Linked DNA regions of Homo sapiens: regions 1, 2, 4, 5, 6 and 7 are each linked to region 3. The links come from fine-mapping of genetic effects on gene expression. A gene starts in region 3. Each other region holds a variant in brackets. All regions are shown on one strand. Distances are from middle to middle.

The links.
Region 1: its variant is fine-mapped to the expression of LINC03100 in testis (GTEx, PIP above 0.99).
Region 2: its variant is fine-mapped to the expression of LINC03100 in putamen (GTEx, PIP above 0.99). The same link has a PIP of 0.9 or more in hypothalamus and sun-exposed skin.
Region 4: its variant is fine-mapped to the expression of LINC03100 in whole blood (TOPMed, PIP above 0.99).
Region 5: its variant is fine-mapped to the expression of LINC03100 in whole blood (TOPMed, PIP above 0.99).
Region 6: its variant is fine-mapped to the expression of LINC03100 in skin (TwinsUK, PIP 0.95).
Region 7: its variant is fine-mapped to the expression of LINC03100 in whole blood (TOPMed, PIP above 0.99). The same link has a PIP of 0.9 or more in lung.

What each region holds. Positions count from the first base shown.
Region 1 is chr2:242,054,989-242,059,250 of GRCh38, reverse strand. The region is part of intron 3 of LINC01237 (long intergenic non-protein coding RNA 1237); the gene reads right to left. All of the region lies in intron 2 of LINC01880 (long intergenic non-protein coding RNA 1880), which reads left to right. Among named protein-coding and RNA genes, the nearest start is that of LINC01880, 27 kb to the left of the region's middle. The variant C/T (reference allele first, on the strand shown) is at 2,243.
Region 2 is chr2:242,164,080-242,168,341 of GRCh38, reverse strand. No RefSeq gene overlaps it. Among named protein-coding and RNA genes, the nearest start is that of LINC01881, 78 kb to the right of the region's middle. The variant A/G (reference allele first, on the strand shown) is at 2,354.
Region 3 is chr2:242,086,652-242,090,913 of GRCh38, reverse strand. It overlaps LINC03100 (long intergenic non-protein coding RNA 3100), which reads left to right and starts at 2,349. Exons shown (of 1, transcript NR_186294.1): 1 at 2,349-3,563. LINC01881 (long intergenic non-protein coding RNA 1881) reads right to left here and starts at 2,281. Exons shown (of 7, transcript NR_130702.1): 1 at 2,113-2,281.
Region 4 is chr2:241,835,420-241,839,681 of GRCh38, reverse strand. No RefSeq gene overlaps it. Among named protein-coding and RNA genes, the nearest start is that of PDCD1, 21 kb to the left of the region's middle. The variant A/G (reference allele first, on the strand shown) is at 2,189.
Region 5 is chr2:241,905,189-241,909,450 of GRCh38, reverse strand. The region is part of intron 2 of LINC01237 (long intergenic non-protein coding RNA 1237); the gene reads right to left. Among named protein-coding and RNA genes, the nearest start is that of FAM240C, 6.9 kb to the right of the region's middle. The variant C/T (reference allele first, on the strand shown) is at 2,299.
Region 6 is chr2:242,034,859-242,039,120 of GRCh38, reverse strand. The region is part of intron 3 of LINC01237 (long intergenic non-protein coding RNA 1237); the gene reads right to left. It overlaps LOC105373980 (a long non-coding RNA gene), which reads left to right. Exons shown (of 3, transcript XR_924086.3): 2 at 1-73; 3 at 248-1,126. Among named protein-coding and RNA genes, the nearest start is that of LINC01880, 47 kb to the left of the region's middle. The variant A/G (reference allele first, on the strand shown) is at 1,744.
Region 7 is chr2:242,120,349-242,124,610 of GRCh38, reverse strand. All of the region lies in intron 3 of LINC01881 (long intergenic non-protein coding RNA 1881), which reads right to left. It also overlaps the pseudogene SEPTIN14P2. Among named protein-coding and RNA genes, the nearest start is that of LINC01881, 34 kb to the right of the region's middle. The variant G/A (reference allele first, on the strand shown) is at 2,348.

The sequences.
Region 1 (4,262 bases), 32 kb after region 3:
TGATAATCTCACTCTTTTCTTTCCAAACATGATGTGTTTTTTGCTTGTCTGAGTAAGCCGACTAGGATTCCTGGCACCATCGTGAACGGCTCTGGTGGGCACAGGCAGCCCTCTGCTGCTTCTGATCTTAGGTGGGAAACTGTCATATTTCACCACTAATAAAATTTTAAAAGACAATTCTGGCAAAGATCAGAAATGGCAAAGACAGTGGAGGGTGACAGAGGGGTTTGCCTGCAACAGTTCATGTTTTTTATTTTGTTAAAAGAGAGTTACAATTATTACAGAATATTATCGGGTAGAAAACAAATGGCATTTGTCTTACATTATTCTTTCTACTTTGCTTTTTGTTTTTAAAAAATATACCAGAGAAATGAAAATAAAGTCAGCCTCCATAAAATTATGAAGAAGAAAGGCAGTATCATAATGATTATGCAGGAACCAAGGACTGGCCTGGAAGATGGGCCCCCAAGCTCACAGGGACACCAGCAGGCACTGCTTCTAGACATGGAGCCTCAGTTCCAGAATGTCCCGTGACATGACCAGGAGTAGGGAACCAGCCCTCCCGACCTCCATGTCTTATTTGCCAGGCAGGGGTAACTGCAGGCTGGCCCTGACCAGGATGACCACTGGCTCCCACTGTGGATGCATTTCGTGCGTGGCCTGCATTGGACATCGGCTCACCCATGTGCTGGGGTGTCCAGGGTCCAGGGGAAGCTCCAGGACACATTTGAGGATCAGGAGAGCAACCTGCATAGTGCAGGACTCTTGTCAGGGAGACCACGACCCGGGAGCCTTTCCTAGAAGACACAGAGTCCCCAAAAATACCTGTGACAAGGGTCTCATCACAGCACTGTCTGAGAGTGCTTGGAGAGAGGGAACCTGCCTGCAGCTGTTCCCAGAGCAGTGGGGCGGGGGACACTCCCCTACTGAAGAAGGCATTTCCTTTTGGCGCCTCCAGTTCCCCCTGCCAGGACGTCAGCACCCAGGCTCTGATGTGGGCTGCTGGGGGCCACGGCACTGCAATGCTGCCCTGGATTGAATGGGGCGGGGGCTATAGATGTATAATACAAGTTGGATTTTAGAGACTTGGTATGTGGCATAGAGTCTCAAATGTCCAAAGATGTGTCGCATTGATTTCAGGGTGAGTGGATAGTTGTTCTGATATACTGAGTTCAGTAAAATACATCGGCAGCAGGAATTTTACCGGTTACTGTTTCGTTTTTGTAAATATGGCTACCACAAAATATAAGGGCACGCAGGTTCACGCCCTCACCCAGCACTGGCCTCCCCTTCCCAGACAATCAGCCACATCTTCGCCTGCCAGCATGGCCCCTTGTTCTCAGGGCTCCTGCCCTCATGCTCCTGTGTCCTCCAGTCCCCCTGCCCTCTAGGAAGCCTCGTGGCTGATGGGGCTTTGCTCAACCTGGTCTCGCGCTCACCTCCACCTTTGGCTCTAAGGCTTGTCATCCCTAAATGAGTGCCACCGTCACGGAAGCTTCAGGTCCACAGAGCTGGATGCCCCGGCCAGGCCTGCCAGCCTCATTCCTCGTCCAGAGCACAGTAGCTCCTGCAGGTTCCCCTCCTATTTGACCAAAATAACCCTCCCGATCCCCTAAATTTAAAACTTCAGTGTGGACCCTGCCTGGGGTTCCAGGACCCCAGCCCCTCTGCTTCGCTCTCCACAGCGTTTATCACTCGACCCGTACCAGGCTCCTTACCCGTTTCTCCTATTTCTCTCTCCCTTTAGGAGGGCAAGACTATTGTTCACTGCTATTTCCCCACAGCTAGAACGGTGCTTAGAGGTACGCAGGTGTGCACACCCAGGTGCACACACACAGGAATGCACACAGATACACACTCACAAATACACACACATCTTGTATGTGTGAAAATAAGTAAATCAAACATCTTCATATTGTTTCAGTACTTTAATATTTTAGCTCTTTAAAAGATTCCACATTTACATGGTAGTGTTTCCTATTCAGCATTTTTCCCTTGATCACTCTGTCCTATTCGAAAATATTCTAAAACAATTTCTGAAGCCAAACCATCGAACTCTTCAAGACTAGGTCTCTAAGCAAATATGCCAAACAGACCCGATTCAAAGTCAGGGAAACCACAAGGCTGTCAGCCCAGCATGTTCCGTTGAAAGGCGAGTCTGAAGCAACGTCCCAGACCCCTGAGGTGGGCTCCATCCCAGCAGCTCCCCTGGGTCTGTGCAGGGCCCCCCACGCCTCCGAGT[C/T]GGAGCCAGCTCTCAACTGGCCAAAAAGAAGATGTGATGACTGTGAGAGCCTCTCCAGGTCCTTCGGGTCGGACCTGTCACCTAATTGGGTGAATTACGGCTGAATAGGTGAGGACTGTTTAACTGCCTTCAGGCATCTTTCAGATTGTGTGGTTAGCTAAGCCAGCTGCTGCAAGAAATGGAAACAAACTCATTCCAGGGTTGCCTCTGGAAGACGCAGGTGCCCACGGCCCTCCAGTCCCCCTGAATCCTCATCTTAAAATAAAATAGGTTGGCCCTTTTTCATTACTAAACTTATTCAAATACAGGTGTCCAGCTTGCACGGAATTACCCTCCATTTTCCATTTTTATGCACTAAATGCATACGCATATTTCTAGACTATTAGTTTCTTCATTTTTTTCTTTACAAAAGAGGACTCTTTCTGCTTTTATTAATTTTGACGATTTTCTCTAATATACTGTAAGATTTAATGCATGTTATTTTCTAATTGCTGTATTTCATCCTGGATTAAAGTAACCTCAAAAAATAATCATCAAGAAGAGATGGAAAGAAAAGAGGGGAATGAGAAAAAAATGAACTTTACCTTTCAACAAATTTATAAAAAGATGTGTTTTTTATTCTTTACAAAAACTAAATTATTGTTCATAGGCTGAAGGCTGTTGAATTATGAGAAAGCGTCATTTGAAGAGATGGATGCCTGTGACCCCGCCAGGCTCTGCAGACCTGGAGGCGGCTCCAGATCTGGGGTGTGCGGCGCATTGTGTGTCCAACAGGTGATTAACTCTGCTGGTGACATGTGTTTTTAGATATGTGTGTCTTTTCTATGAGAGTAAATCATAAAGCCCACAGGATGTGCAAGCAGCCATTCTCGCTGGCCAGGCGGTGTTAGCGCTTGCAACGCACATAGATTATATCCAGGAGGATGCAGTCAATACTTTCTGGGTCCTTTTTAGGTTTTGGGGGCTTTGCAACACGCTTTACACTGCCCCTCATAAACCCGTCCTAACTGTGCGTTCCAGAAAATGTGCAGTTTCTTAAGTTTAGGAATTTTTTTTACGGCTTTTATTTTGAATGCTTGGATTCTTAACTTCTGGTCCCAGTGCAGGTTCATAAACAGACATGGGGACAGAGGTCTGCCTGGCCAGAGCTTAGTTCTGAGGGACACGCTTCGGCCATCCGGAGAGAGGGCCTGCTCCCCAGGCTGAGGAGACAACGGCCACGCCGGGGAGCACCACTCCCAGTCAGGGCCTAAAGCGTGGAGCCTGGGAAGAGGGGGCTTGCTCCTCCGCCTGCTCCTGGCAGTACACCCCAGGTCCCCCCGTTACCTAGGGAATGGCGCTGAGCAGGGCAGGTCCCAGGGCGCCATGGAGAGAAGGATGTCAGCCGCAAAGCCCTTGGGCGACCAGGCCCAGAGCCGCCCACTTGGGACAAGCCGCCAGGAGCAAGGGCACAGCTTTCTTCTGGGTCTCGCAGGCCCCTGGCTCTGCACAAATGGTGGGAGGGACCGATCCTACCCTGGAACCGTAGAACCTCGTCCAGCTCTGAGTCAGGAGCCATGGGGGCCATGGCCTTCCGGGCCTGCTGACCTGAGTAAGGGTCCCAGCACCGCTTCCAAGGCCGGGACAAACGCCTGCTCCTAGTGGGTCCCGCGTTGTTCCCGCTTGTTATCTAAGAGATGCGGTCAGCCCTTCGGAAGCCCTCCGACCCCGCCCAACCCCCACACTTCTCCGGCCGCTGCTCCTCTTCCCCCATTCAAGCCAGTCTGGCCTCCGGCTCTGTTCAGAGCAAGCCCAGCCTCCTTGTCATGGACTGGAAGGACCCCTGGCTCCAGGCTCCCGTCCTGCTCACACCCAGGAGTGTGGGCCACGCACTCCCGGAACCTAACTGTGGGTGAATGCTGGCCCTGGCTCCAGGCTCCCGTCCTGCTCACACCCAGGAGTGTGGGCTGTGCACTCCGGGAACCTAACTGGGGCTGGAGCTCGTCCTTGTCTCCTCTGACATCAGCTGGACGCACCATTT
Region 2 (4,262 bases), 77 kb before region 3:
AAATATCTGAGGGTGTCTAATATCCCAGTTTTTCATCCTAGAATGGGCAGAGTCCTTGACCCCATTCTAGGGAGACTTCCAAAAGAAAAAAGACCTGCATTTCTTCAACAACCCACATAGAGAGACTTTCCTGCACTTTTGACCTGTGGCTAACACTCCTTACCTTTCATTCTGTCATCAGTGTTTTAGGGAAACACCTTTAACTCTCTACGATTTACAGGTTATTAAGTGGCGCTTACAATTCCCTCCAGAGGTGAAAAAGACATAATGATGGTGTCTGAGCTCACAGCAGCAAGCAGGCGTGTGTGCTCAGCAGCCACGTGGCTCATCTGCTAGGAGCTTGCTAAATACGATGTTCTACAACATTGCTTAACACAAGGGGAGACGCTCCTGACTTGGAGAGTTTAATTGCTCACCTACTTCTTTTTCTGCCCTCTTGGGCTTCTAAAATGAAAAGAACCCTGGGGTGATAAAGTGAGTCAAAGGGGTACCAGGTGCATCACAGCAAAATAGATTCCTAAAAAATCCCTGGCCTAAGATGATACCCTTGGCTGGATACGTTTGAATGTGCTGATAGTGGACATGGTAGAGTGAAGGTGGTTGAAATGTTCATATTAAAGAACTTCCACCCAGATTGCAAGAAAAGAGAGAGGAATGGAGATGGCAGCACGAGTCCCTACAATAAAAGCAGATGTTTTGAGACCGGTTATATTTCTTCCGACAAAAATTAAAGACAGAAACCAAAGTTTAGCCTGAGGCTACAATTAATTGGGCAATAAGCCGAAGGCACATATGGCATAGACAGATTTAAACATTTCTCCCTTATATTAATACAAATACTAAAATTACAAATACTTTGATTCCAAATAAAACAAATATTTAAAAAATTTAATGAATAAACACTGGGGTCTACAGTAGTATTTGAAGGAGATCTCACAAACAGGTTTGGTTTTTGAAGGTTAGAACTGGTGGTCTAGAGAATTCATTTCATTCCAGAGAGAGAAAGAGAGGAATTTCTTGGGTTCCTTCAGGAATGTGTCTAGCTTTGCCTCATGTTTGTTTGAACGATGGATACGGCAGAAGAAAGCATGAGGATTTCACAGATTTAAGGTGCAAAAAGTCACTGGGTTCTCTAAGAAGTCTGGGATTCTTCTGCTGCAAAAATAAGTTTGTTGAGAAAAAATGAGTTGGAGGAGGCTGTTATTGAAGTGAAGCAGAATTGTTTTTACTAATCTGCTTATTACCCACTCTGCAGTGTGGAAACAAATTATTCATGCACAAGGTCCTCTTACTGTTCCTAGAATGCAGTGGAAAGAGAACAGATTAGTTTTTCTCACTCAGAACACAACCCCTAGAAACATCCTACCTCAGATGAGATATTGCCTAATTATTTTCAAAGGACAGTGAAAAATTATGGATGTAATGTTTGCTGCAAAATTAATACATGCTAGAAACAGAAGCATCTGGGTCACAGCTATATTAGAGCTATCTGTGTTCCCCTGTCACTGAGATTAAAACAAAAATGTCCAATACAATCACTCACAGCATGGGAGAGGGGAAGTTGAAGGATGGAAAGGCCAGGCATAAAAGGATTTCAGAATTTCCGTCCATAAGGAAGTAGCTTTGTGCATTGTCTGTTACTGTGTGCAAGGTGAAGTTTGGAGAATGAAAACGTGCAGTAACAACGGCTCCTTTGTCCCTCTCACCTCTCCAGATACCAAGTTTCAGACATGTTGCATTTTAGTTGAAAGGTTGATATAATTTTTTTTAAAGAACACTTGCGGTGTTTGAAGTGACAAAGGCTGCTGTGACAAAAAAGCAGGGAAAGGGATTTTTTTTAAAAAGCAAACAACAACAACAAAAACCCCACAGAAAAGCAAACAACAAACAAACAAAAAACAGAGGAAGAAGTTGAACACCCTGGGCTGTGACTACTTCCAGGAAGGGGCTACAAGAGGCAGTTGGAAATTCTATTTGCTTTGCAACTGTGGGTCTTCCAGCCTGCTTCCTTTCTAAAGTATATTACTCTGCTTTTGGTTCATGAAATTATCCATTTCTGTTTTCTGGAACAGCTATGTATTTTCTTTATCTATCATCTATCTATCTACCTGCCTATCATCTATCTATCTATTTACTATCTATCTTTTCTACCTTTCGCTATCAAGAGCTTGGGTCAAGCAGGATAGAATTCCAGTGTATATTCACTCTACCATTTAAAACAAGAGCTCTTGTAGGCATTCTCCATCACATCATAAACCTGAGCTTTCTAAAACAGGGTGTGGCAAACTACCATGCATGGACCAGGTCTGACACAGTCTGCGTTTGTAAGTAAAGTTGTAATGGGACACAGCCA[A/G]TACATGTGTTAAAAAACGTCTCTGGTTACTTTCATGGTATAATGGAAGACCTGAGTCATTAAGAGAGAGACCATATGGCTTGGAAAACTTAAAATATTTAACATTTAGCCCTTTGCAGAAAATATTTGCTGACTCTTGTTTTAAGAGATCTCTGTTTAGAATGCTACCTATTGCCTTCTGGATAGAATCACAACTCTTTACCACGATCAACACAGCTTCAGCCCTGCTTCTATATCCAGCCTCATCTATTTCTGCTCCTCCTCCTTATTTTCCTTCCGGACATGCTGATGAATTGTCAGCTTCCCAGATGTGTGAGAATCTCTCCTCCCTTCCCAGCATTCTCATGCTCTCCCTCTGCCTCTCAAGAACTTCCTGCCCCATCTCTCATGACAAATCCCTTCTTCATTCTTTAAGATGCAGCCCCTTTGCTCCTTCCTTAAAGATGTCTATCTGGCTCTATTTTGGGTGACATGCTCCTTCTGCATCTCCCAGAGCCACCCTGTGTGTGTCAGCTACAGCATTTCTTTGCATCTCTGTGTCATATATCACCAAATCTGCCTAACCTTGAGTGAGTCACTGCATGACAACTTCAGACTCCACCAGCATTGTCCCCACCAATCAATTATTTTCAACCATTTAAAAATGTAAAAATCATTCTTGCTTCATGGGCCATACAGAAACAGATGGTGGGCAGAGTTGGCCCAGGGGCAGACCACTGTTTGCTGACCACTGCCACACTGTCTTAATCAAGGCAGCTTTTATGGTGAGCCATGGTATCTAGTAATTTCTCCCATTTTTGTCCCTTTTAAGGGCCCTTACTTGGCCCTTTGCATTTCCATATAAATTTTATAATTAATTTGCAGATGTCCACAAAAAAGCCTATTAGAATTTTAATGGGACAGCTAATGCTAGAAGGGTAATTTTAGGAGAAACAAGAGATGCTTATAAGTTGTGTGTGTGTGTGTGTGAGAGAGAGAGAGAGAGACACAGAGAGAGAGAAAGAGACAGAGAGAGAGAGAGACAGACAGAGACAGAGAGAGACAGGGTTTCACTCTTGCCCAGGCTGGAATGCAACGGTGCAATCATGGCTCACTGTAGCCTCGACCTCCTAGGCTTAAGCAATCCTCCCACATCAGCCTTCCAAGGAGCCAAGACTACAAATGTATACCAACACACCTACCTAATTTTTTTGACTTTTAGTAGAGATGGGGTTTCACCATGTTGCCCAGGCTGGTCTCAAATTCCTGGGCTCAAGTGATCCACCCACCTTGGCCTCCCAAAGTACTGGGATTATGGGTATGAGCCACCATGCCTGGCCTTTTAAAAAAGTTTGAGACAGGGTCTCACTCTGTCACCCAGGGTGGAGTGCAGTGGTGTGATCATGGCTCACTGTAGCCTCAACCTCCTGGCTCAAGTGATCCTACCACCTCAGTCTTCCATGTAGCTGGGACTACAGCTGCGTGCCACCACATCTGGCTCATTTTTTTTTTCTTTTTTAAGTAGAGACAGGGACTTGCTATGTTGCCCAGGCTAGTCTCAAACTCCTAAGCACAAGCGATCCTCCCGCCTCGGCCCCTGAAAGTGCTGGGATTGCAGGCATGAGCCACCACACCCGGCCAAAAGTTGCTTTTGAGGAGTTATTGCTGTGTGGATGTGATATAACCCTTTCTGTCATCTCTTCACAAAACTTTCTGTAAAACATAAAAATCACCTGGACCTTCAGAGATGAGTTTGTTTATTTTTTTATTTTTTTAAAAATTGCTAATTCACAGAACATGGAGATGAGTATGTTTTGAAGGCTTGGAAGCATGCAAGTGGGAGAAGAAAGGAGTCAGCTACATTCTGGCTGTGTGCAGAGGCAGGTCACTGTGGTGGGAGTGTTCCTGTCTCATGGACTCTGCAAATCAC
Region 3 (4,262 bases):
AAAAAAGACAAGTTGCAATTTAAAAGGTCTGGGGTCTGGATCTCAAGTTTTCAAAAATACTCCCAAACTGAGGCTTCTGAGTTTGTAAATCAGAAAACAATGCTACTAAAGTTTTATAGAATGATGACAACCCACGGCTTTTAATGGGAATGTATTTGTTCAGCTAAAAAAATGTGAATTGCTAGAGCTTTGTACGCTTATTTTAATTAAAATTACCTTTATTTTGGGATTTGCAAATACAAAAAAAAACTAGAAATTACTCCTGAAAATTATTAAACTTTTAAGAGCAAGCACTCAAAGGGTGTAGCTTGTATAATTTGCAAATTTTAAGCACATTTTATGCCAACTTATTTCAGACAGCCTACAATGATTAACTATTTTAAATCTTCCCTTAATTTCTATTTCATGTGGTAGGACATGTGGGTGGGGTACTTCAGTAGAAAATGACTTCATGAAGTTCATTTGCTGGTGGAAACTCTTGGCATGAGAGACTCAGAACAAAAAAAAAGTCTTTCCTTCAACAAGCATATTTTTTCTTTACAATAATAATGGCAAACATTTATTAGAGCTTACTATAGGCTATGCATTACTCTAAACAATCTACATATGTTGTCTCATTTAATCCTCATGCTGTCCTCCAAGATAGAAAACATTATTCTTGTTTTACAAGTTTCATTATCTATTTTATAGATGAAGACACTGAGGCAAAGAGTTCAGTGGAGCTGGGATTCAAAATGATGGAGTCTCACTCCGGGATCCATGCTCCTACCCACTATGTTTATAATAGCAGTTCCTGAAAACCCTATTAAAACAGATGCCATTAAATTATAAGCCTTTTAACTTTTTTTTTTACCGTCTATTACAGATCACTAATATGATTTCAAGTAATGATGAATCTAAATATAAAGGCACTAAAACAAGGAAAACAAGACAGGAAAGAAAACTCTAATCCATTTTAAAAGACCACATGTGTTTCCCTATTTGTTTTGCTTAAAAGTGTGGACAAATTTGATCCAGAAAGGACATTTAAAAAAATGGCACACTGAGGGCTGAGAGTCAGAAATAAGATTTACTGTAAGGACTTACAGATAATCACAGATTCCTCATGGGAAAGGTAAACATGTAAAGACGAGGAGAAAACAGAATATGAAAGAGTAAACGTCTTTTTTGATTAGGGCCGGATGGTAAGGATTTGGAGGCAGCAAGAGACAGCTTCATAAGGGAAGAAATGGTTCTCTAGATTCTTTAGTCTTCAAAATGAGTTTGAATAGACCCAAGGACAGAGGTGGAATCTAATTGAGAAAAAGGTCAAATTGAGCTTACTGTGAGGGGAAGGATGCAAAATTAGTGTCTGCTGCAAGAAAAATAAGCATGGAAAGAAATTAAGGGAGGAGACAGAGACAGAGCCAGAGCCACAGACCAGGAGTAGGGAAAAAAAGGTAAGCAGCAGACGGGGCAGAGTGGCCTGGAGGAATGAGGGGTCACACCTAGCAGGTGCCCACCGGCGAAGAGGCAAGGGCCGAGCCCGGAGGGCAAACGCCGGCAGGAGTCGTCCCCGAAACACCTTGCCCAGCGAGGCGGACACAAGCTCGGGCCTGCAAGACGGCCCAGGAGGGTGGGGGCGGGAAGGGGTCGCAGAAGGTGGGCAGGGGAAGCGGCTGAGGACACGCGATGCACCTGTGGGCGGTCCCCGTGCCCACCTGACTCGCCCGCAGCTCCCTGAATGAACCCTCCACACCCGCCGGCCGCCCCCAGACCCCACCTGACGCGCCCGCGGCCCATCGTCCCTTCCTGACGCGCCCGCGGACCCAGACCTCAGCAGACGCGCACGCGGCAATCCCGTCCCCATCTGACGCGCCCGCGACAACCCCGTCCCCACCTGACGCGCCCGCGACAACCCCGTCCCCACCTGACGCGCCCGAGACCCCCGGTCCCCACCTGACGCGCCCGCGACCCCATGTCTTCCCCTGACGCGCCCGCCGCCCCCGGTCTTCACCTGACTCGCCCGTGGCCCATCGTCCCCACCTGACGCGCCCGCGATCCCCAATCTTCACCTAAGGCGCCTGCGGCGCCCAGTCTTCACCTGACGCGCCCGCGGCACCCCGTACCTACCTAGCGCGCCTGCAGCCCCCAGTCTTCACCTGACGCGCCCGCGTCCCCCAGTGCCCAACGGGCGCGCCTGCCACCTGGGCCGGCACCTGACGGCGACCAGGCGATTATTGCCGGAAGTGGGCCACCGCCTCTCGGCGCGCCTCAGGGAAGCCCCGCCCCTGGCCATGCTGATTGGCCGGCGCGGATTCGCGTGGCAGTGTTGCTGCCGGGTCCTGACGCCCGCAGCGTGCGCCTGCGTAGTAGGCACTGCCCCGCCGTCCGCGCGCGCCCAGAGTGCCGGGCGTGGAGGTGTGGGGGCGCGGGGGCGCGGGGGCGCGGGGGCGCGGGGGGGCGGGGGCGGGGGGGCGCAGGGACGGGCGCGGTCAGTGCCTGAGATCCCTGCGATCGCTGGGAGATGACGGTGAAGACCTGAGATTTAGGCCTGCGCGGCGGGTGACGACGCCGGTCCGGGTCTTCACTGGAGGACGCTGGCCGGGGCCTTCAGGTGTTCTCGTGGCCTGAGGACGCGCGTCCCTGAGAATGTGCGTGCCCGCGCCGCGCGGGTCCCACAGGAGCCTGGGCAGCCCCGCCGCCGCATTTCCACCCTGCGGCCGTATTTCCACCCGCTGGGCGCCAAGCCCGGGATGACTGCACTCTAGGGCATCACTGCGCGCTCACACTCAGCATTCAGGCACAAGCACGTTCTCTTTATAAACAGTTTCGAATCTTGTCGAGTCTTTCTAGAAGGTTGAAATGCCCTGGAGGAGCAGCGTGAATAGTTTTTTCCAATTAGGAAAAAAGAATGTGGGGCGGCTGGAGGGAGAGAGGCAGGCCGAGAAGGCCAGGTGCGTCCAGGAGCCGCAGCCCCCGTGCCTCAGTTTCCTCCTAGAAACATGGAGGTGGCGGTGCACGCTACAGGATTTCTGTAAGAACAGATGAGTTAACGTGTGCAAAACATTTAAAACAGTGTCTGGTGTGTAGCAAGCAAATATGAGTATTAGTCTTTTCCTTGTTAAAATGTGTGCATCTACATTTGGTGCACATTACAGGAAGTGTATAGTATGGATTCATATTTTGGAAAAGTAATTTTAGAAGTTATTTCTGATGTGCTTATTGTAATAGTGTTTCTTGACCACATGCTTTTAGATAATGTGAAGGCAATGAAGCAGGCAATATTGCTTGCACATCCCCAATTTAAACACCTGTCTGTCCCTCCTTCCCTCTCTCCTTTCTTTTCTTCCTTACCCTCTCTCTTTATTCCTTCCTTCATTCCCTTCAAGGTTGCGGATTATTCCATTATATAAATGTATCAATTTATTAGAATAGTTTCTATGATGTCTATGATGGGCTTTAGATTGTTTGCAATAGTTTGCCATTACAAATAATGCCCAGTAGTGCTGTGGTTTGATTTAACTTGTGAAGGTATATTTCCAAATAAATCGCTATGATTGGATTGTTGTGTAAACCAAAAAGTGTCTGAGGCAGATCACAACTGATATAGAGGTTTATTTTGCCAAAATTGTGGATTTGCCTGGGGAAAAAGAAACACAGGTTACAGTAGGATTTTTGGCCTGTACTTTTTTCCAAATATTTAAGGGAAAAGCGCCGGTAGGAGGGGAAAGAGGGGAGAGTAGGCTATGAGGCAAGTGGTCACATTTTTGTGAGGCTCTGATTAGAGTACAGCAAATCTACATTTCACATGTGAAAAGAAAGGTATGGGGGAGGGTTATACATCTGTCTCATACTCAGTAGATCTACATTTCACATAAGATAAAGTAAGCTTTTGGGAACAAAAAGAAGGCATGTATGTGTGTGTGTGTGTGTGTGTGCGTGTGTGTGTGTGTGTTGCCAATATTAACTTTTCCCTTTGGCATAGTAAGTTTGGAGGCCTGAGATTTTATTTTTCTTTCACTGATGTGTCAAGATTAACTGCATATGGAATACTAGTAGAAATTGCCAAGCCAAGACCCCACCACCACAATAGGGGACATAGTAATATTAAATTTAGCCCAATTGGCCAGCATCCACACAATTCCTAGTGAAAGAATTCCTGGCTGGATGGTAAAGAGGTAAACTAACTGCAGAAACTCACAAAGCAACAAAAGAAGTCCACAGAATAAGAGCAGGAATTCAGAGAGTAACCACAGAGAGATCCACAGAGTAACAGCAGG
Region 4 (4,262 bases), 250 kb after region 3:
TACACTAATTGGTCCAGGTGCAGTGGCTCACGCCTGTAATCCCAGCACTCAGGAGGCCTAGGCGGGCGGATCATAAGGTCAGGAGTTTGAGACCAACCTGGCCAACATGGTGAAACCCTGTCTATACTGAAAATACAAAAATTAGCTGAATGTGGTGGCGGGAACCTGTAATCCCAGCTACTCGGGAGGCTGAGGCAGAAGAATCGTTTGAACCCGGGAGGCAGAGGTTGCAGTGAGTTGAGATGGTGCCATTGTACTCCAGCCTGGGCAACAGGCTGAGACTCCATCTCAAAAAAAAAAAAAAGTACACTAATTAATATAAAACCAAAAGTTTTCGGTTAGAGAAAAGTTTTGTTAAAATAATAATTTGCTATTAATAAAATTTGATGTTTAGGTGGGCGCGGTGGCTCACACCTGTAATCTCAACATTTTGCGAGGCCGAGGCAAGTGGGTCACCTGAAGTCAGAAGTTCGAGACCAGCCCGACCAACATGGTGAAACCCTGTCTCTACTAAAAATACAAAAATTAGCCAGGCGTGGTGGTGGACACCTGTGATCCCAGCTGCTCAGGAGGCTGAGGCAGGAGAATCGCTTGAACCTGGGAGGCGGAGGTTGCAATGAGCCGAGATTGTGCCACTGCACTCCAGCCTGGTAACAAAGCAAGACTCCATCTCAAAAAAAAAAAAAATTGATGTTTAATTCTGTGTTGATCCTTGCCTTCTGTTCTTGTGCCCTTGCCAAGGTGTATCTTTTTGCTTGGTTGGGATGATAACCTTCCCTTTCAGCCTTTTTTTTCATCAGCTCCTGTAACTTTCTTTTCCAATTGTAACTACTGCTGTGGCCTGATGCTGAAATGTTGATCTTAAAGGTCTAGAAAAGCAATGTTTTCCTTCATATAACTTGATTCTGTACTCTTGGCTTTTCTTGTTATACATTGTTCAGTATAGCCAGGAAACTTCTCATGCTGTTACTAAGAGTCATGCATTGCCCTGCTCAAGGTGCTGGTTTTCTTGTTTCCTTTCCTCCATAACATCAGGTACACTCATGACCCTAGACACACTCTTCCTGCACCTGACTAAATTCAAATATCCTTTTTCATCAGGTTTGACTTGCAGGTTAGCTCAATGGGCTTCCAGAGGAGAAACAATGACTGCAGAAGGTGTTTCTTTGCCTTTTGAGTAACTGGCCTCAAAAAACGAAGATTTTGCATTTTATCAAGATAATTTCCAGTGTCATTTTTATTTGGTTTTTTGATTGCTTATGAAAACTGAGCTTGTTTTTACATCCATGTAACTTTCTGCCTTGCCATTGAAGATGGCAATGGTTACATGAGTAACTATTATTTTACAATGACCTAGGATTCTATTTTGATCAAATGTTTTGAGCCTTTTAACATCTTTCACAAAAGTCCTCAAAATCAAATCCTACATTAAGCATCTCACTTAGACTTATTGCAGGCAGGATCATCAAAGCTATAAAAATGAATCATTACGAGATTATACATATTTTTTTGAGACAGAGTCTCACTCTGTTGCCCAGGCTGGAGTGCAGTGGCACAGTCATAGCTCACCGCAGCCTCGAACTCCTGGGTTCAAGTGAACCCAAAGTGCTGGGATTATAGGAGTGAGCCTCCACACCTGGCCTGTAAAATCTTTTTGCAGCTTCCAGTTGTGTCATGAACTCCAAAATCACCACCTCCAGCCTGCTGATTACATACACTGGAAGAAACATCAGTTACAGGACTCTTTCCCCTGCACTTTGGAAGGGTCCTTAAAAGGTACTATTAACAAATCCATGTGCTACCAAGTTACAGGGAGTTGACTCCTGGGCACACATAGAGTATGAGTCTGTTTTCACACTGCTATAGAGAACTGCCCGAGACTGGGTAATTTATAAACAAAAGAGGTGACAGCCAGAGGAAGATGCAAAGGAAAGGCATCCCAGGCAGGGAGCATTGCAGCTACAAATGCCCCGAGAGCCTGTATGAGTTTGATTTCACACGCTGTAAAGACACTACCTGAGACGGGGTAATTTATCAACAAAAGAGGGTTCATTAACTCACAGTTCCCCATGGCTGGGGAAGCCTCAGGAAACTTAGAATCATGGTGGAAGGTGAAGGGGAAGCAAGGTACGTCTTAATTTAATTTTGCGTTCATCCTGTTCATCATGGCAGGGGAGAGAGAAAGAGC[A/G]AAGGGGGAAGAGCCCCTTATCGAACCATCAGATCTCGAGAGAATTCACTCAGTATCACGAGAACAGCGTGGGGGAAACAAGCTCCCATGACCCAATCAGCTCCCACCAGGTCCCTCCCTCAACACATGGGGATTACAATTCGAGATGAGATTTGGGTGGGGACACACAGCCAAACCGTATCACATCACCTAAAAAAGGCACCAACTCCTGCTGAATCTTGAACATTCCACACTGGTATCTGAAACCAAACTCAAGCTAACCAAAGCCTTGTCTTCAGATCCGGGGGAAGACAACCATCGAAGTGAACGGCTTTCATGAGACACAGGGCTGGGTTTATACTCCAAGACGTTAAGACATTTCATAGTTTTCCCTCTATCTGAATTAATATAATTTGCTCTATGTCTTAGTACTATATACTTTAGATGTTTAGCTACCTGTGAGCTTCCTTTTCCTGTTCTTATCAGAACTGAACAGCGCTTATTGCCTTTGTATTTAAAGTGTTACTGATTCTTTGTTTTGTTTTCCAAAGTCAAGAAAACCTTTTTTCTTTTAACCTATTTATAGGTGACAGAAACTGAGTAAAATAACAAAGTTCAGCTTTCTCTCTCTACCTTCTACCTCCAGAATTCAAAAACTATTCATGAGCATTCTTACTTACAGCAATATGGTGGTTTGCATAAGTTCAATAAGAATACATTTTCTTTTGTAACAGGACACTTTGGGGATATTATTTTAACAAGACCTTTGACTGAAATAACACTTTCCGATAAAGTTCCAGCAAAGCCAATTTAAAAAGAGCCTACACGGCCAGCTGCTATTCCTGCTGCAATTTACACAAATGATCAAGCCAAATAGAATAAGACTAAAACTTATTTTGTACACAAATTGGTCTTATTATTATTTCTCTGTGGTAGAAAGGGGGAACTAAAGAGATGAAAAAAATTACGTTTCAAAAGAAAACACTTGTTCTGCAATTCCAGCCCCGACCACTGTTCTTGAGTTTTATTTTTTGCCTATAATTCAAACTGAGTCTTGAATTATCTCTTGGCTACACATCTCTAAAGAGGATCCAGGTTGTAATTTTCTTCATGATCGTTTTAGTTGGCTCCCTAATGGGGTTGATTCCTTTCTTCCTGTTAGGGGCGCATAAATTCTTGTTGAGAGGCAAAGCCAGCTGGACTTCCTGGGTGGCGTGGGGACTTGCAGAAATTTTCTGTCTTACAAGAGGATTGTAAAACGCACCAATCAGAGCTCTGTAGCTAGGATTGTAAAACGCACCAGTCAGAGCTCTGTAGCTAGCAAGGGGATCGTAAAACACATCAATCAGCGCTCTGTAAAAATGCACCAATCAGCGCTCTGTAGCTAGCAAGAGGATTGTAAAATGCACCAATCAGCGCTCTGTAAAATACACCAATCTGCACTCTGTAAAATGCACCAATCAGCAGGATCCTAAAAGTAGCCAATCACAGGGAGGATTGAAAAAAGGGCACTCTGATGGGACAAAAATGGAACATGGGAGGGGACAAATAGGGAATAAAAGCTGGCCACCCCAGCCAGCAGCAACAACCTGCTCAGGTCCCCTTCCATGGTGTGGAAGCTTTGTTCTCTTGCTCTTCACAATAAACCTTGCTACTGCTCACCCTTTGGATGTGTGCCATCTTTGAGAGCTGTAACACTCACTGCAAAAGTCCGTGGCTTCATTCTTGAAGTCAGCGAGACCACGAAACCACCAAAGGAACCAACTCCAGACACATTATGCCTGTACGTTATAATTCTACCACTCAAATTATTAATGCCATTTATCTCTCAAATCTCTCTCATTCAAAGTCTCCTGGAGCTGTTGCTGAAGCTATACCATATCAAGCACCCTCTGTCTAGGCCCAGGGACTGCTGAGGAAGAGAAGGGGGCGTGAGATGGTAAGGGCTGGCTTCAAAGGATAAAACTAGTTCAGGCTGGGTGCGGTGGCTCATGCCTGTAATCCCACCACTTTGGGAGGCCAAGGCAGGCGGATCATCCAAGGTCAGGAGTTCGAGACCAGCCTGGCCGACATGGTGAAACCCGTCTCTACTAAA
Region 5 (4,262 bases), 180 kb after region 3:
CCCACGAGAGATCCAAAGCCCTCTCTTGGGGTCTTGATTGAGACCCTTTTTCCAGTAACACTGAGGCTCCATTTCCAGTCATGGCAAAGCAGCTCATGTCAGTCCAACACACCACCTACATCCCCTGGACAGATACAGGCACCAACCACCAGAAGGTACCGGGCACAGCCGGAAGCAGAAAGAGACTGAACAGGCGTCCGTACTCGGAGGAAAGCCGTGGCGCCAGGCAGATTTCCTTTTGTAAGGCATTCCACTCGAGAGCAGCTGGCCCACGCAGGGGAGCAAAGCCTCGGGTAGGAAACCACCGTCCCTCCGGCATGAGGACCCAGAGAGCAACGGGGTGACTGTGGCAGCCAGGGAGGAAAGAGGAGTTCCTGGAAAGGACAGAGCCAGAGGGGACCCCAAAATCTGCATTTCACTCTGCCTAGATCTCCTGGAGACCTGGCCCACACGTGTGCAGGACTTTGTGCCGCCTGAAAAGAACCGATGAGCGGCACCAATGGTGCCACCGTAGGGGACAGAGCCTAGCGTCTGCCCGACTAAGCAAAACAGAAATCTGTCTGACAGCCTGGGGACCGGAAGTCTGAGGTCAGGCATCGGCAGGGTCAGTTCCTGCGGAGATGTGAAAGGGAATCTGCTCCCGGCCATGCCCCAGCAACCCTCTGTGTTGCTTTTGATGGGGTTCGGGACACGCTACCCCAAAGTATGGCACCTTGGCACTGTGAAAACAGCAGAAGCAGGAAGGTCTCTCTCACCTCCCCTCAGCCTTCTCCCCTACAGCAGGTCCCCAAGACCCTGATGTGAGACGCCCTCCCGAAACCCGGGGAAAAGACACGCCCTTCTCTCTGAAGATACAGGACACAGAGAACTGGTGTTGACAGCTGACGTGATGACAGTTCTCGTCTTCTCAGTTCAAAAGAATTTAAACAAGAGACACACTGCAAAAGAAGTGCAGCACAGAGTAACTTATTGCAAAAGAAGAAAAGTATTTTGCAGGGGCTCACGCCTGTAATCCTAGCATTTTAGGAGGCCGAGGTGGGCGGATTACTTGAGGTCAGGAGTTTGAGACCAGCCTGGCCAATATGGTGAAACCCCATCTCTAATAAAAATAGAAAAATTAGCCAAGCATGGTAGCAAGCGCCTGTAATCCCAGCTACTTGGGAGGCTGAGGCGGGAGAATCACTCAAATCCGGGAGGCAGAGGTTGCAGGGAGCCAAGATCATACCACTGCACTCCAGCCTGGGCAACAAGAGCAAAACTCTGTCTTTAAAAAAAAAAAAAAGAGTATTTTGAAAGTGAGGTGCAGAATAGACAGGCCACCCTAAGGGAGAAAGGACTCAGGGTGGGTCATGAGGGTGAGACAGCAGAGACCGGCCATAGGGAGGCTGCCTTTATGGGAGTCTCACCCGATGATCCATAAGAAGATGGGAGAGGTAGCCGGGCATGGGGGCTCATGCCTGTAATCTCAGCACTTTGGGAGGCCAAGGCGAGTGGATCATCTGAGGTCGGGAGTTCAAGACCAGCCTGACCAACATGGAGAAACCTCGTCTCTACTAAAAAAAAATACAAAATTAGCTGGGCATGGTGGCGCATGCCTATAATCCCAGCTACTCAGGAGGCTGAGGCAGGAGAATCGCTTGAACCTGGGAGGCAGAGGCTGTGGTGAGCTGAGATCTCACCACTGCACTCCAGACTGGGGATAGATCTAGACCCCACCTTAAAAAAAAAAGAAAGTGGGAGAGGTGTTATCAGGAAGCACAGTCTGGTGGTCGTCGGCACACATGCTTGTTTGTAGGTGGTGTGTCTCATTAGCATCTTACATCTCCACCCAGGGGTATCTTTTTCACTGTTATAATGAACAAAGGGTTGGTTCGAGGACAGGTAAAAATTAAAGTGTGCGTGCTCTTTAGAAGAGAGTCCCCGCTGGAGATAGCTTTGCTTGCGTGAGCTCAATTACAAAGCAAACACTGAGGTTTAGGTGGTGGCTGTGTATAGTCAACACAGTCATTTCCCTGCTCACCTATCCCCTCTCCCCCGGGCACACAGGCCGTGCTGAGGTGCCCAGTTCACCCATCACATCACAGCCTCCCGTCCTCATCCACGTTTCCCCACGGCCATCCCCTCTTCATCAAGCCAAAGCACAAACACACAGGTCCACCTGGCTCTGGGTCTTCATTTCCTTACGAAGGCTCCAAGTCACATAAAACTAAAATACATTTGTTCGCTTTTCTCTGGTGAATCCGTCTTGTTTCAGGAGCCTCAACCCTGAACCTTTTCTCTCTGCACTTGGAGTGTAGA[C/T]GCGTCCCTTCTTCTCTCCCTCCGGCTTCACCGTACCTTCCCTGTGTGTCTGTGCACACATTTCCCCTTCTTAAAAGCATGCTGGTCATTGGATTTAGGGCCCACCCTAATCCATCATGAGGTCATCCTAATGCATAACATCTGCAATAACCCATTTCCAAAAATGTCTGTGTTCACAGGTTAGGGCTTGAACATATTTCCTAAGGACACTATTCAGCCCTCCACAAACACCAGCAGCAGACTAAGCCACGTTCAGGTCGTGTTGAGGTGGGAAATTAAAGAAAAATAAAATTAAAAAGAAAGAGAAATAAGCTTTCCCGTATTAGGCTAACTTGTCCTAGAGGCAGCAACAAGCACAGCCCAAACCCAGGAAAAGTCTTAATAATAATATTATCTAATGTGCTCTGGAGACTCTCCCAGCACTCCCTCAATATAGGGAGAAGAAAAACAAATTTTCCTTTGTTTTATGGAATGAGTTTATAAATTCCTGTTCTCTGTAACTATTGACTTCAAGCATTGTTTTATCTAAGCAGTAAAGTGAAGGTCATGAGCCTCTGAGCAGGCCTGAGTTACGGCCACCTGGGCAACATAGTGAAGGTTATGGGATAAGCCCGTGCCCAGGTTAACCTAGATAACGGACATGTGGGTTGCTTGGCAACAGTCATGTGCAATCCTGAGTTTGTCCTGCCTCTGTATCCCTGCTTTCACGCCACTGTAAGCTTGCTTCAAGCTAGCCCACCCCCTTTTGTGAAGTGTGTGTAAAAGTCAGGCGCTGTCTTTGTTCTGGGCCCAGTCTTTGGACATTGAGTCTGCTGGGTCTGAGTGCACTCAATGATAAAGATATCCTCCTGTGTACACTCCAAGGTCTCTCTCCGGTCCTCCTGATCCTGCAACAGTGCTAGGTCTCCCTAAAGGCCATCGGGCCCCTGGGTGGACCTTGGAGTCTTGCTCATTATCTCAGCCATGCTGTGCACATGACTGTAGTCCCAGCCTGGCCCACCCTGGGATGACAGGAGCTTCCCCCGGCGGTCCGTTTCCTGCACTGGCCCCCCCACAGGGATGTCTCCCAGGGCTGCCTGGACACGTCTTCACATTGGCTGAGGGGTCCCTCAAGGGCAACCAGACATGGCTTCTAGTCTAGTACCTGTTCTTCCCTCACAACATGAGTGAAGGATTTTAAACCTTCAAAGCCATATTTGCACTTACCTAACCCCTTAATCCTTTTCCTTCCGTCCCCCGTCCTGGAAGCCCCACTCAGTGTGTCAGGGGATTTCACCACCGAGGCACCTGTGGGCTGGGACCTGGGAGCTCTGCGTCCCCCTCCCCACACTCAGTTTCACTATGGCCAGATGCTGCCTCCGATGAAAGAAAGGGAGCCCATGGCAGAGCGTCGAGGGCGCCAGGGTGGCCACACAGGCCAGGAGACCAACCTCTAACCCTGATCTGACACAGGTCTAAGGGGAAGGTCATGAAGAAGAAACACAGCTCCTGAGAGACGTTTGGGGAGAACGAACCAGGACTAAACTAGAACTTACTCCGTGCAACCAGGGCCTCTCGGGAAACACTCAGGAAACCCTGGGCTGGCAGAACTAGTGGCGTCTTTGGGGACGGATCCCCGCAGGTTGGGAGTCCACGGTGCAGGGCCTGCATGGGGGACCAGACACGGCCACACCAGACGGGGCCCCTCTCAACGTTCAGCTGCTCAAGAAGGAGAAAAAGAGAAGGATTCTAAATGACGCACTGCCCTTCACACTTCAGGGTGAGGTTCCCGGCCCACTTTGTATTATGATTAAACACGCAGGTGTGCGCACACCCACAGCCCTGCACACACACCTGTGCACACTCCCAGCACCCACTCCCCCTTTTCTCCTGGGCAGAGGACGGCCAGGCCTAAGTGTGGTGCCCAGCACCAGTGACGGGCCCGGGGAAGGGACTGTGACGAGGAGGCCAGTGCCCCTGTGGAC
Region 6 (4,262 bases), 52 kb after region 3:
CTCCCACCTGGCAGTCATGGGACCTCCCTAAGCGGTTTAACTGCCAAGTCCCAGATCCCATCTGTGAAGCCAGGTGATAAAAGCTGTGGGTCACTGGGTCTCCTGGGTTCCCAGAGGTGCCCATGGCCGTCTCTAGAACAGCAGCTCCCCGTGGGTGGCACCTGTGTTCCCAGGCACAGTCCCGCCTGGATGCCTCCAGCCCACCTGGAGCTGTGAATGAACCAGCACCTTTCCCGCCTCCTTCCAGCCCTCCGACCATGGCCTCTCGCAGGACCCCTGGGAATCACCCTCATCTGTCACTGTTTCCCCACCGGGACCCACCACCGAGGCTACCAGGGAAAAGCCACAGGATTTGTTTGCATCTGGGGAGGCAGCTCCACCTTCCTGGCATGAATGGTCACTAATGATTGGACTTTGTCAGCCTGCAAGGCAGGAAGGAGATTTACTCTCCACAGACTGGACAGTCCTTAGCTTTGTGCTTGCCACATAAATGGCATTTAATACATGCTCCCTGGACTCAGCACCACTCCTGAAGGCCTGTATTGTGGTCAGCAGTTATCATTTCTTCCACAAATGAGCTCATTCTTCTCCTCTCAGGATCAACCCTTTCGCCTTCACTGAGGCATCAGACACCAGCATTCGGAGGGACACCCACTCCATCCTCTTCTCTCAGCTGCCTGTGGAAATTCCCATCTCAAACACGTGACTCCCCACAGAGTGGCACTCACTGATCACGGATCTTAACTTTAAAAGGTGAAAAATAAGTCAAGGCTTAAGGTAAAGTAACGGGAGGTGTGGATGTCTGAGCAATGCGGTGAACCGAGTCACGGGGCCGCGGAGATGTTCGCAGCTGGGACTTTCCAGGCCTCCCGAACGCAGAGCGCCCGAAGCCATCAGTGGCCACAGAGTGTGTTTCAGGTGTGATTTGGGGTCATTTATGCCAATTTTATTCTTCTTTTATTTCCATCTGGTTTTCTTTCTATAAATTGCATACGTCATGCATGCTACGTTTTATAGTCATCCGTGTGACATCCGTCTCGCACAGTGAGTTAAGGAGGACGTTCCGCTACAGCTGTACTTTTTACTCAGCAAAATAAAAAAAGAATAAAGATGAGCTTGAAACTCCTTTGGAATCACTACATTATCTGTTGCTTAGCAAAAGCAATCCATGAATAACACACATGTACACACATGATACACATTCATACACACACAAAAACACGTCTGCACATATGTGTATACATACACATAGAGACATAGGCACACATGCTCTGAAGGTCTGCATGGTGGAAAATTCTAGACATGTTCATTTCTACTTCCTGCCAAGCGCTGAAAACTTGGTGTGCCTGAAAAATCACTTGGCTTCTGTAACCAGATTTACCAAATTAAAAAATTAAAACTGTCCAAGTGTAGAGGCACTAGAGTTTTGTGTCATCATTATTTTTTGAACCACCAAACTTTTATGATGTTGTTGCATTTTTAACAATGCTTGAGTCAAATATCTCACGTAAAAAGAAAACTTCTAAAAAGAAAAAACAATCTAAAATCATGAAAATTTTTGAAAGCATAACCTGCAGTCTCTCCCTCCCCAAAATTGTGTGAATTTGTATGTCATGCATTGATTTCTTACAGTAGTCAGAATGTCAGCCGAATACCACAAAACACGTGTGTTTAGAGAGACTCCCCCGAAGTTGGGAGTGGTGAGAAATGGCGGGAGCTTGTCCCGAACAGACTCCTGGTGCC[A/G]ACAATACCAGTGAGGAAGGTTCATCTCGAAAAACAAAAGCACTGAAGAGAAGCTGCATGAAACGAGGGGAACTTCACTTTTATCCTTAGATAAATGATTTTTTTAAATTTTGTGGCCACATAGGTGTATGAATTTATGGGGTATGTGAGATGTTTGGATACAGGCATGCAGTGTGAAGTAAGCACATCACAGAAAACGGGGCGTCTGTCCCCTCAAGCACTTATCCACTGAGTTACAAACAACCCAACTACACTCCCTAAGTTATTTTAAAATGCACAGTCAAGTTCTTACTGACTGTAGCCCCCCTGTTGTGCTATCGAACACCAGGTCTTACTCATTTTTCTATTTTTGCACCCATTAACCATCCCACCTCTCCCAGCCCCGCTACCCCTTCCAGCCTCTGGCAACCGTCCTTCCCCACCCCATGTCCATGAGTTCAATTGTTTCAATTTTTAAATCTGACAAATTAGTGAGAGAGAGAGAGCAATGTTTGCCTTTCTGTGCCTGGCTTAGAGAAATCATTTTAAAATTTCTGGTGTGCTTGATGGTGACAACTAACAGCCTGTGAGTTGGGGCTGCTCCGGTGAGGGGTGTGATGACGGGGAGGCTTCAGCCAGGTGGGCAACCAGGCCCTGACAATGGCCCAGCGGCGACGGGAGCCTGATGAATGTGCTGCAGGAGGTCAAGGCTGCACATCGATGTCCTCACGGCTGTGTGAATGGGTGTGAGACAGAGTCGTGCAAGTTCCAGCTGTGACTGATGAGAAAAATCACAGATATCACAATTTTCCCAGCCACAAAATGGGGGAGCAGCAGAGTGAGGGCCCAGTGCAGAGGAGAGACAGACACACCTGCACACGCACGGCGGGACGGGCAGCTGCATGCTCACCCCAGGACCTGGTGTGGAGGAGTACAGACACACCTGCACACTCACGGTGGGACAGACAGCCACACACTCACCCCAGGACCTGGTGCAGAGGTGGAGACAGACACACCTGCACACACACCCCAGGACCCAGCACGGAGGAGTACAGACACACCTGCACCCTCACGGTGGGATGGACAGCCACACACCCCTGCGTCCTCACATCCTCCCCTGGAACACAAGGATTTTGCATCTATCATGTAAGTGTGCATGAGTGTGAATGAGTAGGTGTGACTTGTGCAGCAGCCTGTGTGTGCGTGTGTGTGCAATGATCATGGCTGTGTGTGCAAACTGGCATGAGAGTGTGGGTGTGTGTTGCTGTCCAGCTGAGAGGACTGTGGGGGGAGTGAGTGGATGTCAGCCTCGGCCATGGCTTTCCATGCCCGACCTCTGAGCCAGCCCGGTCCCGCCTCCCACCTGCAGGCTGCGTGGGTCGCACCTGCAGTCTGCCCAGTGAGGCGCAGGTGTTTCTCACAAGTAGGGGCTGCTTTCCTCACAGCTCTGCTCACACCCATCCATCTCAGGGACTGCAGGCTGAGGTAAAATAGGTTTTTAAAGTAAGAAAATTGACTGAGAGCATGAGCCTGGCTGGCTGTGTTGATGGATTGTGGCCTTGAAGTGAGCCCTTGTACGTTTGTAGACTAAGAAACTCGATCCATGCCAGGCAAAATGAAAACCGCGTGAGAAAGGCTCTGTGACCCGGATTCCAAGGCCGTCGGCCGGGATCCGGGAATCTGGTTTGGCTGCCGTGGCCACTTGTGTCTGGTCCGCAGCGGCTCTGCTCAGGCCCAGATCCAGGCCTCTCCCGGAGAGCGATCCCTGCCCGCTCCTTCTTCACCCACACCGCGGCTTGGATCTCAGCTCTCAGCTCTGACCCTCCCCTCTGAGGTCCTGTGGACGTGTCCAGCTGTGGAAACCACCACTTTCAGGGTGAGGCCTCTGCCGTCCCAAATGCCCCTACTGGCCTTAAGATGTCCTTGAGACGGAGCCGTTCCCGGGGCTGCTGGCCGTGACCTCAGGCACCGCAGGCCCCACCTGCCAGGTCCACAGCTGCCCTTTTGCTCAATGGCATTTCTTTGAACACGGTTTTCAGGTTTTCTTTACGGGGTGTTCATAAAATCACATGCTGTCTTCTCGATCGTAGTAAGACAGGAACAAGCCTCGTGGACATCATGGGGCAGTCGAGGTGACCTGCTCTGCGAGGTGCTGCCTCGAGAGTGTGGATTCCCTCAGCGAGAGGCAGCAGCCGCCCAGCCCCGGGAGCCCCAGCCCAGGTTCAAAGCCCTGCGTTTCTTTTCAGTGTCTTCTGGATCTGAAGGAGGGGGTCCCGTGAAGTACAGACAGCTGTGTGTCTCCATAGCAGGGAGAAGCCCTCTCAATTGTCCCTTCCTGCAAATCCCCTTTCCTGATCCCAAAGCCGCAACAGTGGAACCTTCTGGAAGGTGGATTTCCAAGGATTGTCCTTATCCTAAAACTGCATTCAGGAAAGACACATTGACATGACTGGGGGCAGAGATGTGTAATGCAAATAAAGGTGTCGCTTTCATGTAACCTGAAAACTGAATTATTCATTAAAGGTTATTAAATTAAATAT
Region 7 (4,262 bases), 34 kb before region 3:
ACCAAAAACGAAATATACATAGAATATAAACAAAAGGAAATGAGACTAGAAACAAAATGTGTCACTACAAAAAAATCAACTAAAGATAAAAAAGAAATAATTGAGAAAATGGCAAAAATCAGTAACTCTGACATATTAAAACTTTCCATGCTACATAAATCTGAAAACTCTATTTCACATAAAACTGGAGCTGAAAGAGACAAATATTTACCTATAAAGTTAAAAGTTATATAGGGAACAAACACTAATTTTTTTTAGAAAAAATTATAAAAAGAGTAAAAATATGCCTTATACTACCCCAATTTCATGTTTTACAGCTCTGGGAAAATAGAAAATAAAATGTTCTGTTAGCATGAATCCCTCTGTGCCCCCAAAAAACCCTATGGATTGCATCATTATTACCTAAAAAGTCTATTGTCAAATGCAGCAGAGTGATATTTTTTACAAGGTAGATATTAATTTTAGATATGGAATAATATTGGTGATTTCAATTTTATAACACTGGGTTAAGATGAAAGAATGAGAAGATAAAGGTCCCTCAGCAATATAACTCACAAACATATTCAGCAGTAAGAAGTTACATTAATTATCTTTTGAAAGTCAATAATCTACATCTTTAATGTATGCATATAGCATAGCTAATGTACTATCGCTGGGTCCATTTATTCAATGAATAATTGCCGCTATGTGTCAGACATTTTTCTAGGCCTAGGAATGGATACATAAGTGAACAAAGCAAAGATTCTGGTTCTTGTAGAGTTTCCATTAAAAGACCATTTAGTAAAACTGTTCTTCCCCCAAATTATAAAATCTGTAAGATGATTTAACAACATGTGTAAAAGTCATTGTGGGCCAGGCACGGTGGCTCATACCAGGTGTGGTGACTCATAGCACTCTGTCACCCAGGCTGGAGTGCAGTGGCACAATCTCTGCTCACTGCAACCTCTGCCTCCTGGGTACAAGCGATTCTCCTGCCTCAGCTTTCTGAGTAGCAAGGACTACAGGTGCACACCATCACACCTGGCTAATTTTTGTACTATTAGTACAGACGGAGTTTCACCATGTTGGCCAGGCTGGTCTCGAACTCCTGACCTCAAAAGATCCGTCTACCTCGGCCTCCCAAAGTGCTGGAATTACAGATGTGAGCCACAATGCCCGGCCTTATTTTCTACAACTTTGGTAACTTTAGCATATACCCCAAATCTGTAAGACATAATATTATAATTCAAATGCAACTCATGGCTTCTCATTGTACTCTTTCTCTAGCTTTTGAATTATTTATTCTAATACCAGTTTTAATTCTGACACAAAAGCATGGGAGTTCTAATCAAAATCCAACCTTTTATCATAAAAACTATGAAGAAATTATGAGTAGAACTTAAAAAGGAAAATAGGCCTATTAATTAGATTTGTCTTTGTAGCATTTAACTCTATAATAAATAACATAATATTTTATGCCTATGAGTACCCAACAAAGCCTCCAGCTTCTATTTAGATATAAAATGTAAAAGTCACTACTGGATCCACAAGCAAGACTATGGTAAAGAAATTTCTCCAGCTAACCAGCTTCTTTTACATGATGTTACATGTTTGTTTTTTCATTTTGGCAAATATTGATTGTCATCTTCGTGTTTGTCTATGTCCCAAGTGCTGGGATACAGAATCTGAAAAGATGGACACAGGACCTGCCTTCAAGTTCACCCTTTTTTTTTGAGATGGAGTTTTGCTCTTGTCGCCCAGGCTGGAGTGTAATGGTGAGATCTCGGCTCACTGCAACCTCCACCTCCAGGGTTCAAGTGATTCTCCTGCCTCAGCCTCCCAAGTAGCTGGGATTACAGGTCCCAGCCACCACGCCTAGCTAATTTTTGTATTTTTAGTAGAGATAGCGTTTCATCATCTTGGTCAGGCTGGTCTCGAACTCCTGACCTCAGGTAGTCGACCCACCTCGGCCTCCTACAGTGCTGAGATTACAGGCATGAGCCATCACGCCCTACTAGGAGTTCACGCTTTAGTTGGGGAAAATATACAATAAGCAAGCCAATTTTTAAAAAGAGAACTGCAATTAGAGTTAAATGCTACAAAGACAATCTCACAGGAAGATGGGATGTAGAATGATAAGGCTCTCAGAATAGTAAGAGAAACTATTGCTTCTTACGATGTTTGTCTTTCTTTGTATCAGTGCTCAGCTGAGTCTGCAGTGCTTCAGAGGCAGCTTTCATTTTATAAAAATCTATGATTTCTCCTTCCAGTTGTTTTTTCTCTTCCTCGAGCTTCCTTATCTCCTCCTGTTGAATCATTTTAAGATGCTCGAATTTGTCCTGCAGCTGTGAAACCAATGTGCAGTTGT[G/A]ACACCAAAGGAGTGTGGCTGAACACCCAAAAGAATATGCTTTTTTGTGATTATCAAACAAACCCAAATCATCACAGTAGAGCACGATCTTAATAACAATCTCAAAAACTCAGGAGTAAACACTCAGATACGGAATTTTTCTTTTCTTTCTTTTTTCCTTTTATAAGATGGAGTCTCACTCTGTTGCCCAGGCTGGAGTGCACTGGTGCGATCTCAGCTCACTGCAACCTCCATCTCCCAGTTCAAGTGATTCTCCTGCCTCAGCCTCTTGAGTAGCTGGGACTATAGGCATGCACCACCACTACAGGCGTGTGCCACCACACCTGTCTAATTTTTGTATTTTTAGTAGAGATGGGGTTTTGCCATGTTGGCCAGGCTGGTCTCGAACTCCTGACCTCAGGTGATCCTCCCGCTTTGGCCTCCCAAAGACCTTTTTTTTTTTTTTTTTAATATAGAGACAAGTTCTCAGTATGTTGCCCAGGCTGGTCTCAAACTCCTGAGCTCAAGTGATCCTCCCACGTCAGCTTCCCAAAGTGCTGGGACTGACCGGATGCAGTGGCTCATGCTTGTAAACTCAGCACTTTGGGAGGCCAAGGTGGGAGGATCACTTGAGCCCAGGAGTTCAAGACCAGACTGGGTGATATAACACAATAGTAAACTTCAACAGGAGAGAGAATCTGTAAACTTGAATATAGATCTTCTGAAATTATCCAGTCAGAGGACAAAGAAAAAAAGAATAAAAAAGAGAAAAGAAGGCTGGGCGTGGTGGCTCAAGCCTGTAATCCCAACACTTTGGGAGGCCGAGGCAGGCAGATTAAGAGGTCAGGAGTTCAAGACCAGCCTGGCCAACATGACAAAACCCCATCTCTACTAAAAATACAAAAATTAGCCTGGTGTGGTGGCACACACCTGTAGTCCCAGCTACTTGGGAGGCTGAGGCAGGAGAATCGCTTGAACCCAGGAGGCGGAGGTTGGAGTGCAATGTGAGCCGAGACCACACATTGCACTCCAGCCTGGGTGACAGAGCACGACTCTGTCTCAAAAAAAAAAAAAGAAAAAAAAAGAGACAGAGAAAAGAAAGCCAACAAGACACCATTAGGCAAACCATTGTCAGGTTATGGGAGTTTGAGAAGGAAAGTAGAGAAAGGAGAAGAAAGCTCATTTAAAGAATGGCTGAAAACTGCCTAAATCATGGGAAAGATTTAGACATCTAAATCCATGAAGCTTAAAGATTCCTAAAGAGGTTCAAACCAAATAGATACTCACCAAGTCACAATATAATCAAATAGTCAAAAGTTAAAGAAACTTTGCAGGTCAGGACAGAATCGAATAATACATTCAAAGTGCTGAAAGAAAAAAACTGCCAGCAACTAATACTATGTCTGACAAAGCTGTCCTTTAGAAAGAAAGAAGAAATAACGTGTTTCCTCGACAAACAAAGCTGAGGGCATTCAGGACCACTAGGTCTACCTTAAAAAAATGCTGCGGATCACGAGGTCAGGAGATCGAGACCATCCCGGCTAAAACGGTGAAACCCCGTCTCTACTAAAAATACAAAAAATTAGCCGGGCGTAGTGGCGGGCGCCTGTAGTCCCAGCTACTTGGGAGGCTGAGGCAGGAGAATGGCGTGAACCCGGGAGGCGGAGCTTGCAGTGAGCCGAGATCCCGCCACTGCACTCCAGCCTGGGCGACAGAGCGAGACTCCGTCTCAAAAAAAAAAAAAAAAAAAAATGCTTAAGGGAGTTTTTCAAGTAAAAATGAATGAAGTTGGGAGCGGTGGCTCATGCCTGTAATCCCATTTTGGGAGGCCGAGGTGGGTGGATCACCTGAGGTCGGGAGGTCAAGACCAGCCTGGCCAACATGGCAAAACCCCACCTCCAGTAAAAATACAAAAAAGTAGCCAGGTATGAAGGCC